Linked DNA regions of Homo sapiens: region 1 is linked to region 2. The links come from fine-mapping of genetic effects on gene expression. A gene starts in region 2. The other region holds a variant in brackets. All regions are shown on one strand. Distances are between the middles of the regions.

Region 1 (3,007 bases), 24 kb before region 2:
TCTGTCTAGCTCAGCATTGTCCAGTAGAAATATAATGCAAGGCTGGGCACAGTGGGTCACACCTGTAATCCCAGCACTTTGGGAGGTCAAAACAGGAGGATTACTTGAGCCCAGGAGTTCGAGACCAGCCTAGGCAACACAGCAAGACCCCATCTCTACAAAAAATAAAACAAATTAGCTGGGCATGGTGGCACCTGCCTATCGTCCCAGCTACTCAGGAGGCTGAGGTGGGAGGATTGCCTGAGCTCAGGAGTTTGAGGCTGTAGTGAGCCGGATGGTGCCAATGCACTGCCCTCCAGCCTGGGTAACAGCGTGAGACCCTGTCTCTAAAAAAAATAAAAATAAAGAAAAAAATATAATGCAAACCACATATGTAAGTTTAAGTTTTCAGTAGCTGCATTAAAAAAAGAAATAGGTGAAATTGGCCAGGCACAGCAGCTCACACCTGTAATCCCAGCACTTTGAGAGGCTGAGGCAGGTGGATCACAAGGTCAGGAGTTGGAGACCAGCCTGGCCAATATGGTGAAATCCCGTCTCTACTAAAAATACAAAAAAAAAAAAAAAAATTAGCTGGGTGTGGTGGCGCATGCCTGTAATCCCAGCTACTCAGGAGGCTGAGGCAGGAGGATCACTTGAACCCAGGAGGTGGAGGTTGCAGTGAGCCGAGATCATGCCACTGCACTCCAGCCTGGGTGACAGAGTGAGACTCCATCTCAAAAAAAAAAAAAATGTGATTTCACCTATTTCTCCTGACCTTGTGATCTGCCCGCTTTGGCCTCCCAAAGTGCTGGGATTACAGGTGTAAGCCACCACACCTGGCCTGAAATCAATTTTAATAATATATTTTATTTAACCCAATATATAACCCAATGTAAACAATATTAAACATTATTAGTCAGATATTTTGCAATATTTTTCTATATTCGGATTTTGTATTTTGAAATCCAGTGTGTATTTTGCAACTAGAGCACACCTCAATTTGTTTTTTTGTGGCTTTTTTTAATTTTAATTTTATTTTTTGAGAGATAGTCTCACTCTGTCACCTAGGCTGGAGTGCAGTGGCACTATCTTGGCTCACTGAAACCTCCACCTCCCAGATTCAAGCTATTCTCCTGCCTCAGCCTCCCTAGTAGACAGGACTATAGGCCTGTGCCAACATGCCCGGCTATTTTTTTATTTTTTTTATTTTTAGTAGAGACGGGGTTTCACCATGTTGGCCAGGCTGGTCTCGAACTCCTGACCTCAAGTGATCTGCCTGCTTCGGCCTCCCAGAATGCTGGGATTACAGGCGTGAGCCACCGTGCCCAGCCAGCCCACCTCAATTTGGGTGCTAGATTTGCAATGCTAAAAAGAGAAATGTAGTCCTACCAAAATATTAAAGTTACATTTAATTTAAAAAGTATACAGCTTTGGTTTTTACATAAAATTAAAAATTCAGTTCCTCAGTCACATTAGCCACATTTCAAGTGCTCAATAGCCACATGTGGCTGGTGGCCAATGTTTTGGACAGCGCAGGTCTAGCTGCATTTGGCAAAGTCCAAATTCCTGCCTGGCTTTAACCTCCCACATCCCTCCCCTTCCTACTTCTTCACAATCCCTCACTGCGCTCTAAAGTGACTTGCCACTCTGGTTAGACCTGTGTCCCTCACATATCATGCCCAGTCCCCCTTCTGGGACTTGGTGAATGACCTAACAGGAATGCTCTTCTGTCCACC[T/C]ATCCAAGCCATAACCACCAGGCCTAGCTCAAAATACCACCCCTTCCATGAGGCCTTCTTTTTGCTATAATGCATTCTGACCCCCACCTTCTTTATACCTCCACTGGACTTCAGTAAGGACCATAGTTTATTTTGGGGACCTGGTGGGTGCTCACTAAATGTTCATTGATTGATTCCTTTCACATAGGGTTGCCAGATTTTGTGAATAAAAATACAGGACATCCAAATATATAATGAAAAAAATCAAAAATATCTCAAATATTGCATAGGGCATACTTGATGGAAAAATTATTCCATATTTATCTGAAATTCAAATTTAACTGGGCGTCCTGTATTTTTATTTGCCGAATCTGGCGACCCCATTTTCATGACCATCTGTTGTGCCGTCTGCTCAACATCCACTCCTTCTGGTATCAGCACCTTGGTTTTCCTCTGAGGATCTATCGCTTCCCCATGCTCAGGTAATGAGGTTGGATTGAGGCTCACCTCCCAGCCCTTCTTCCACCACCATCCTGAAGGGAAAGCACATGATCCAGACTGGGCAGAGCATCCCTTGCTCTGGAGAACAGTGATTGCTTCAGGGACATGCATGTGTCCCAAGCAAGAGCCCCCAACCAGGCATTTGCAAGAACCACAGGACAGGCAAGCTCTTTGCCCACTAGTGTTGCTACGTAAATTGTCAGGCTGGCACTACTGGTGGCCAGTTTGCCACCTAATGGAAAAAACTTGCCTAAGAATGAGAGCAACGGCCGGGTGCAGTGACTCACGCCTGTAATCCCAGCACTTTAGGAGGCTGAGGCAGGTGGATCACCTGAGGTCAGGAGTTCGAGACCAGCCTGGCCAACATGGCAAAACCCTGTCTCTGCTAAAAAATATAAAATTAGCTGGGCATGGTGGGGGGTGCCTGTAATCCCAGCTACTCGGGAGGCTGAGGCAGGAGAATCAATGGAACCTCAGAGGCGGAGGTTGCACTGAGCTGAAATAGCACCGCTATACTCCAGCCTGGGCGATAGAGCAAGACCCCATCTCAAAAAAAAAAAAAGAATGAGAGCAACACAGGGGAAAACAGAGTTAAGGGTGGAAAGTTCTGGAACACATTAGATTCAGCTGCCCTAAGATTGTTCAGTTATATCAGCCACCATTTTCTTTGTTTAGCTTAAACCAGTATAAACTCGTTTTCCATCACGTTTGTAACTGAAAGAGTCTTGCCTAATAATTACAATTTCACAAACACACCCATGTGTGCACACACACTCCTTAAGGGGAAGATGCACCTAATAGGAGGAGCAGAA
Region 2 (2,500 bases):
AAAGCAGCATTATCCAGCAATTATTAGCTCAGTGTATTTGAGCAAGCTACAGTGATTATCCTTTCTAAATCTTTGTTTTTTCATCTGAGGAAAACAAACAGAAGTCATATCAACTTCACAGGCTTTTGTGAGGGTAATAGGTGTGAAAGTAGATTGTCAATTATAAAGTATTAAGCAGAGAAGTTATCATTATTATTTATTAATAAGATGAAAATAAGGATCCAAAAGGGAGGATCTCCAAAAGGGAGAAAGGAGAATGAGATCTATCAAAGTGAGAAATAGAGACAGTAAAAAGAGAAAGAGGGAAACAGAAAAGTTTAGGCAGGGAACAGAAGGAAGGTTAGTACCTTCAGCACTTCCTGAACTTTCCCAGCCACCTGTACCATGGTGGTCAGAATGGATTCGCTGTAGAGTCTCTGTAGGGAATATGCAGGAATGAGAAGCCAAGAAAAGGAGGACGATGAATGGGGGAGGGGGTCTCAGGGTTTCCGATATTAGGAGCCATGGTGAGGGAGAGCAGAGGTGGGGTTGGGGTTGGCATGTTTATTTCCAGGGTCCAGGTCTTGGGTCTTGGTTACCTGGTATGTGGACAGGGCTTGCCCCTCCTCCTGGAAGATCTCAGCATCACATTGCCCTAGCAGTCGAACAATGTTCTCAGCATCTGCTTTGTCTAGATCCTGGGTCAGTGGGTTTGACTTCTCCGTGATTGGCACAGCTGCCTCGTACCCAGACAACTAGAAGGAAGAGGGGACAAGGATGGAGCAGGAAGCCAAAGCCTCATTCATGCCTGCTGAGCTGGAGGTGGGAGTGGCAGCAGGCACAGAGTTTGGACTTACACACACGCACACACATACCACACCAGAAACTCAGCCTGCACTTGGTGCTCTGGGCATATTAGGGAAAGAACATCAGGAAGGAAGAAGAGGTGAGCAGAAACCAGCGGGGAGGGAAGACTGGATGAAAAATAATTCTAGGAATCAGCACAGAAAGCCAACATGAAGAAGGGGTCTCACCTCCCACTTGCCAGGCTCCGGGGTCTCAATGACATGTTGAAACCGTTTTGTGCCTGGCATGGTCCCACGCTGTGGATACACTGTTCCTCCTGCCTCTTCAGCCACACAAACCCCTCTGGTCACAATGACTCTGCTTCCAGTTGGCAGGGCCTTATCTGAGCCCCAGTGATGATTAACCCAAGCACCCTGGGCTCTCAGAGCACCACCCTTTCCTGGTCACTAGGCCCCCAGCCCTCTGGTAACCCCAGGGAAACTCCTGGGCTTCCTCTTTGCAAGCACCCTGACTCGCCAGCCTCTGCTTTGGCCCCTGAAGAGGAAGACCTGAGGCTCGGGACTCTTGCCCTACCGGGACAATGCCCTCTTCTACAGAGGACCTGGAGCCTGGGAGTGCAGGACAACACCCACGGCAGTGAGAATCCCTGGGCAAGTGTCCTCCGAGGCCAGAGATCAGGGTCACCAAGTCAGCACAAGTCAGAGGACCTGGCCCATGGCTTGATCACATGCTCAGCACACACAGTCAGTCCCACTGGTCCCATTTTATCCTCTCCTCTCAGAAAGGAAGGCAGTAGAAGCTTCTGAGCCCCAAGTGTGCACACACTGTACTGGATATTACAGCGGGAAAAATCCCACAGAAACAGAAATACTGCATTGAGAATTAGAAACCAAAGAATCTGCCCTAAATACAATGTTAGCCAACATTTATTTACACTGAACAACACACTTTTCACAGACAGTATCTCATTGGATACACCAACACTAAGATGTTGGTCAATATTGACACCCTCATTTTTCAGATGATGAAACAGGCTCAGAGTAGTTTAGTTGGTTGCTTAAGATCACACAGCTGGACAAATTGGGACTCACACCCAGGTTCTCAATTCAGATTTCAAGCTCAACCAAAGCATGATATAATGTAAGGGCTTACATGTTATTGAACAAAGAAGTAACTAACAGATTGGTGCAAATTAATCTCCATCATCCAGTCACATAGTGTTGTGAGATTTATAAAGATCTTTCCCGTCTCATTTGAGCCTCACAACAACCCTGTGAGATTTCACACGCTTTGCTTTACAGGTGGGAAACCTGAAGCACAGATAAACCAGTTTCTCCAAAACCACACCGTAAGTGGTAGAGCTTTAGAAAAACAAAAAAAGAAAAGAAAGGAATAATAATTTTTTTAAAAAAGCCATAGGTCTTTGCGCTTTGATTCTCCCGAGAAGCCCAACACTCTTAACAATCACTGTATCTCCAGGTTTTAATATAATGCCAGACACATAGGAGATGCTCAATAAATATTTGGTGAATAAATGAAAGAATGAATGAGAAAGCGAACGGAATTAAATGAGATTATGAATGGAAAAGAGACTTAAAAGCTGACGCAGTCTACAAGTAAGGGATTGTTAAAGCAATTATTATCTCCCTCACTCTCTCCCCTCTCCTGTTAGCCCCTCGGGCACTGGAGGTGGAATTCCTCTTCCCAACTTGGC

Alleles and levels. Positions count from the first base shown, and alleles are read on the strand shown. Sizes are in standard deviations (SD) of each study's normalised expression.
With allele T in place of C in region 1, the expression in thyroid of the gene that starts at base 1,139 in region 2 is lower (moderate effect, 0.45 SD a copy in GTEx).

Evidence for each region.
Region 1: its variant is fine-mapped to the expression of GCKR in thyroid (GTEx, PIP 0.95).

What each region holds. Positions count from the first base shown.
Region 1 is chr2:27,519,057-27,522,063 of GRCh38, reverse strand. All of the region lies in intron 17 of GCKR (glucokinase regulator), which reads right to left. Among named protein-coding and RNA genes, the nearest start is that of SPATA31H1, 17 kb to the left of the region's middle. The variant T/C (reference allele first, on the strand shown) is at 1,716.
Region 2 is chr2:27,495,478-27,497,977 of GRCh38, reverse strand. It overlaps GCKR (glucokinase regulator), which reads right to left and starts at 1,139. Exons shown (of 19, transcript NM_001486.4): 1 at 1,014-1,139; 2 at 579-734; 3 at 348-416. The coding sequence starts at 1,073.